Linked DNA regions of Homo sapiens: region 2 is linked to region 1. A link means that fine-mapping ties the variant in region 1 to the expression of a gene that starts in the linked region. Tissue or cell type: whole blood. Region 1 holds a variant in brackets; the other region holds the start of a gene. All regions are shown on one strand. Distances are between the middles of the regions.

Region 1 (2,764 bases):
AATGCATGTATAAAATATAGAACAAACCCTAGTATTTAAACATAAACAGGGTTAGCTGAAGCAGCTTTATTGCAATCTCTTCAAGTTAGCATATTACAGTTTAAATATTTATGCCTGTAAAGATCTGCATAATCTACAATACAGAGTTATTTCAGAAGCAGTTGACTTAACTAGTTGAGAAAAAAAACAACAAACTTCAACGCAAAGCTATAATAATTATCTGAAACTTATTTACAATTAAACATTTAGGGTCCTGATTTACAAAACTCAGTGCCTTTCATGATTTATTGATGAGTTTTATAGAGAAAGTAAGCAGTATGTAGAATATTCCCCAGGTAAAATCTGGAGTGAATGGCTTTTAGAGGAAAGTCTATCAGTATGCTTAACTAAAAACTAAAGAGTGACAAAACTGTATACAGCAGCAATCAGAATAACAGGCCACAAGAGAAGAACGCCATTTTTGACAATATCCTTTGTATGTATAGGAAGAAAAATGATTGCCACCCCCCACCCCTGCCGCCAACTTTTTTAGTTAAAAAAAAAAATTGTCCTTAATAATCACTACATGTGAATTCTGGGTAATAATCTCCTTTCTTTCTATAGAGTTGTGTTTAAACTTAATTCCTGCATCAGCAAATTTAAACAAAGAAAAGTTCCTTTGATAACAGCCATCAGAGTTCAATGGGTATTTATTCAGAGGGGAAAGCTTGGGGCAAGGTGACCAAGTGATTATTCCAATTGCAAAAGAAACATCATAGATAAGGTGCTAGAAACCCAAGATTACCCTTGAAGCACTTTCAATGGATTCAAGTGATTTAATGTAGACAACAAAGGAAATGACAAAGGAAAATTAACGAGAGAAAATGTTTTTAAAGAGAAAAATTTCAATAAATCAGGTCCCAGGTAGTCTTTAAAAGAACAAAAATTTACAGTAAACATTTTAACTCTGGAATGCAAGTATTGTACAATTACCAGTACATTTACAAAACTGCTTAGACAGTAGGTTGCTCCAGAGTAAGAATTTAAAAATGTACAAGCCAGTTCATGATGACTTTAGATATGTTATTAAAATACATTGTTAATCAAAAATACTTTACTATGTACATGTACACTGTATAAACTCTAGATTTACCTACCAAAGAAAGCCTTAATCAATTTCTGGCTCACTGGCCCAGAAAACAGTACAGTTCTATCATTTGGTCTTCATATTATACACAC[GGGCT/G]GGCTGAGAGGCATGGTACTGTAGCCAGTTCGTCAATAATGCATTTTTCTTTCTGTAGAATGTCTAGTTGGATGAGTCAGTTTTACTTCCACTATATTTTACTTTCCTAAATGCTGATCCAAGTAACTCTGGGCATTCACATAATTCATTTGCAATTTGGTTACACTTCAAAATAAGGCTATAATTCATTTCATCAGTTATGACACTGTCTTGCTTGTAGTCAGGATGGTTTGCGATAAACTCCCTCATCCATCTGGCAACTGTCATTAGTTCTCCTGTGGGCGAGGGGGGAGCGAAAAAAAAATTAAAACCACGTAAGTTTTTTTTTTAATAAGTTGATATTTAGTGGTCAGCATAAACACAATTCTGGAGAGAAATCAATATGTCCTTTTAGTGTAGCTGCATGGCAGGGGGTGGGAACATCTTTCATAGCGTTTGAAGAACTCCTCCTGGGCAGGAATTCTAGGTTGCAGGCAGGCAATGAGAACACATACATCCAGTTTCTATGGTACCTGTTAGATGCCACCCATATGCTGACACTGCCAGCTCTTAAGGAACAGGAGCCAGCACATGTGTACAAGAACATGTGCCCTCCCATTTGGCCAGAGGGCTAGGACTACAAATGCCAGTGTCATGAGACTGCCTCAGAGGACTGTAGGGTCCTTGAGCGATCTTTGATCAAAGAGGTGGAGAGAATAAAGAACAGTAAGTAGAGTGAATGAAGTGGGAAATTGGCAGTATACCATTTGAGGGGTGAGGTAGGGTTCTACGGCTATCCTTTGTGACTCCAGAAAGTTTACAGAAGCCTTGAGTTAAATACAGATGCCATTACCATTATTGCTGTCACTTTATTAACAGCTGACAGCTCCCTTGTGCCAAGTACTGTGTTAGCAGTACTTGGTTACTGTACTGTATTGTAAATGTAACCTCCTCAAAACTAACAAAGAAAGGGGATTCTCAGGAGCCTCACTGTATGTACAAAGGCAGGCTAAAGAACTGTTCAGCTTATTTAACTTACAGAGTTCCTTAGCCCTATAAAAGGGCCCATGATGATGTAAGATCAACACAGTTGGACGTAAATGATAAGTAAGCAATCCAGATGCCATTTCATCATCTAAGATGCCAGTGATTTTCAGATGCACCCCTATTTTATGAACTGATAAGAAAAAAAGCACTACTAATCTAAATTATGAGTGTCAAAGATTATAAGGTGAATACAATTGCAGAAATATAAAAATGTGAAACTGTGCATGAATACAGCATTATTTTAAAAGACTACTTTAAGAAATTGAACATTCTAAGATTATACCATGCTGTCTATATTATGAGATTAAGAAAAATAGATATCATACCAGATGCTCTCTTCTTAATTAGCTTTAGGTAGTTCAGAATACTACATCTGGTGTCCACATCCACTTCCATGTTTTCAAGGTAAGAGTTCAGAATTGGGATCAGTCCAGGAAACACACCTTCCTACAAGAAGCAGGACACTTTATGAACTCCCTGCCGGGGGATGTGCACAGTGAGGGGTACTGTACAGGG
Region 2 (2,614 bases), 46 kb after region 1:
AAAAGACACCTGCATGAGGTAGGGCAGAAGTGGACATCCTGAAGACCTGATTTCTAAAAGCAGCAGGCCTACTAGGAAAACTTAAATCTCTTTCATATTGACCGCAAAAGCGAATTTTGAGCCTGTAAGGTGGATCATGGTAGTTGCCGGTCTGCAGATACACTAGGTTGAAGACTCGCAGCACCTAATGTCACTTTTTCATGCTCACGCCCTCCCAGCGCCCAATCCGTGTTTATGGAATGAAGGGGAAAACCCAAAAGAATGAATGAACAAGAAAGGAGTCTAGTCAGGAGGATGGCCCTGGACGCGGACTAGGCGAAAGCAGGGACGATGCTCCCGGGGCCGGGAGGCGCTCGAGGACCCCCGGGCGCAGTGGAGAACGCGGACCGCGATAGGGCCGGGGGCGTAGGGCAAGACAAAGGCAGCGCGGGCGGCCAGACACGGGTGCCCGGCGGGGACGGGGACCGCGGGCGCTCACCTCATCGCCCCACTTGAGAACGTCCTTGTGCCGGTCCTTGACGGCGTGGTAGATGTGCAGGAACTGGAGGATCCCGTGCCGCCGCACGTGGTCGGCATGGCGCTTGGTTTCCTCCCAGCTCAGCGGCGAGCCCTGGGACAGCAGCCCCATGGCCGCCCCCTCCTCCTCCTCCTCCTCCTCCGGGCTGACGGCGGTCGCCCGCTCCGGGCGCGAGACGGACACTCAGCCGCCCGCAGAAGGCGGCTGCCGCTCCACCCCGCGGGGGCGCTCTCGGGCCGCAGTCGGCGGAGGGAGGGTCCTGCCCGCTCCGGCTCCCCGGCGGCGGCCCCTGGCGCCCAGGTGACAGACCCTGGGTCCGACGCACCGCGCGGAGGCGAAGGCAGAAGACCGAGAGCAGGCGGGACGGCTCTCGGCCCGGCGGCCTCGCCCTCCCCGCTGCTCCTCCTCCCGCTCCGATGCGGCGGCGGCGGACCCCACGGCCGCGCTGCCGCGGCGGCTCCCGCTTCTCTTTGCCGGTCTGGTGCACTGGCTTCTTCCTACTTGTGACCAAAACCTGCGCCGCCGCGGAGCATGCCCAGTCTTTGCGTCCGCTAGCTCGCCGCTCCTGGGCGCGATCCTGCGCTCCAGGTTTTATAGACTACGGGCGAAGGCGGGGAGAGGAGGCGGTGCAGCGGCGGAGGCGTGGCCTGAAGCCCGGTGGGAACCGCGGGGGCTCAGGAGGCGTGTGCAAGGGTGATTGGGTCGCAGTTGAGGGGAGCAGCTCGCGAGAAGGGGGCGTGCGGTCGGCCTCGCTTTACGCAAACGCGACATATCAAAATGCATTTTTTTTCCTAATCAGAAGAGATAAACTTGGGATTCGGGAAGAAAGTTGATTATTTGAATCAATGACGAACTCACCATATTATGTTTTAGTTGGACAGGGCCTCACACTTAGAGTGAGAGCGGCAGAATGTGTTGAGAAAAGTATTAACATGGTAGTGAAGTGAAACAGTTCAACTCTAGGCTCCATCACTTACTGACTGTGAGACTTGGGACGAGTTCTTCCCATATCTGCATAAAATTAGATTAATTCTATCTTTTATAGATGTCGTAATTATGTGCATAGTGTACATGTGTATAGTGTTGGCCAAAAAATTGACCTGGTTATTAAGAGGAATCAATTTGTCAACATGTGTAAATCATTATTCCCTACTGTCTTGATTAACTGGTGACCTATGTTCTCTGGATGGCACGGACACCATTTATTGCAAAAAGTCTCCAGACAGACCATATGAGGAACCATCTCCAAAAGTTTATCCTCCATCTAAACCTAAAATTCATCCCTTAAGTGATCAAAATGACGTTCTTGTGAGCCTACCGTGGGGTGGGGTTGAAGATAGTGGGAACACCTAGAGTTGGCCTTATCTCGGAGGGAAAGGAGAGGAAGGAGGTACCGTGCCCCCAAGTGATTGTTTAATAAATATGTGTTGACAGAGCAATGACCTGTCAGGGGAAAAGTGAAGGCAACTAGATCATACATGTACCTACCCAGAAAGTGTGTATTTATCATACCCTCTTCCCTCGCACTACAGAGTTAACATTTAGTAAGCACTTATTAATTGCTAAATGAGTGAGTACATGATAGCAGGATTCTCTTCTCCCACAGCCTTCATATTGGATGTGCCCCTCACAGGGCTTGGGGGCATGAATACCCAAGGTCTGGCTGGGATTTCCACAATGGTGTGTGTGTGTGTCTGTGTGTCTGTGTGTGTGTGTCTGTGTGTGGTAGGGATGTTTGAAGCTCAGGAGAAGATGTTTCCATCCTCATCACACAGGTGGGATAGAAATCAAACCACATTCTAATTTTTCCACAGCCTTTTCAACAACCTCCTTTGCCCTCCCACCAACCTCACCAGATCTGTATATGGTTCTGGCACTCTGTTGTTTTTCCTGCTTGAAATTCTCCATCTGACACACTCATGTTCATCTCTTGAGTCACAGTTATTCCTCTCTGTGTTTTGGTTGCATTCGTACATTAATGATAGAGTCATTTTAAAGATAGCTCCACACTAAATAGTGAATTCCTCTGGGGCACAGATGACTTATGCCTTTTGTACCTTTAATTCTAGAAAAGTGCTTGGTATAGAGTGTGTGCTT

The links. PIP is the estimated chance that this variant, and not a neighbour inherited with it, causes the effect.
Region 2: GCLC starts here. The variant in region 1 is fine-mapped to the expression of GCLC in whole blood (TOPMed, PIP above 0.99).

The regions. Positions count from the first base shown.
Region 1 is chr6:53,497,471-53,500,234 of GRCh38, forward strand. It overlaps GCLC (glutamate-cysteine ligase catalytic subunit), which reads right to left. Exons shown (of 16, transcript NM_001498.4): 15 at 2,575-2,695; 16 at 1-1,497. The coding sequence ends at 1,286. The region is part of intron 3 of GCLC-AS1 (GCLC antisense RNA 1); the gene reads left to right. Among named protein-coding and RNA genes, the nearest start is that of GCLC, 46 kb to the right of the region's middle. The variant GGGCT/G (reference allele first, on the strand shown) is at 1,219.
Region 2 is chr6:53,544,018-53,546,631 of GRCh38, forward strand. It overlaps GCLC (glutamate-cysteine ligase catalytic subunit), which reads right to left and starts at 1,084. Exons shown (of 16, transcript NM_001498.4): 1 at 479-1,084. The coding sequence starts at 628. RefSeq lists enhancers at 1-509, 348-407 and a silencer at 628-1,057.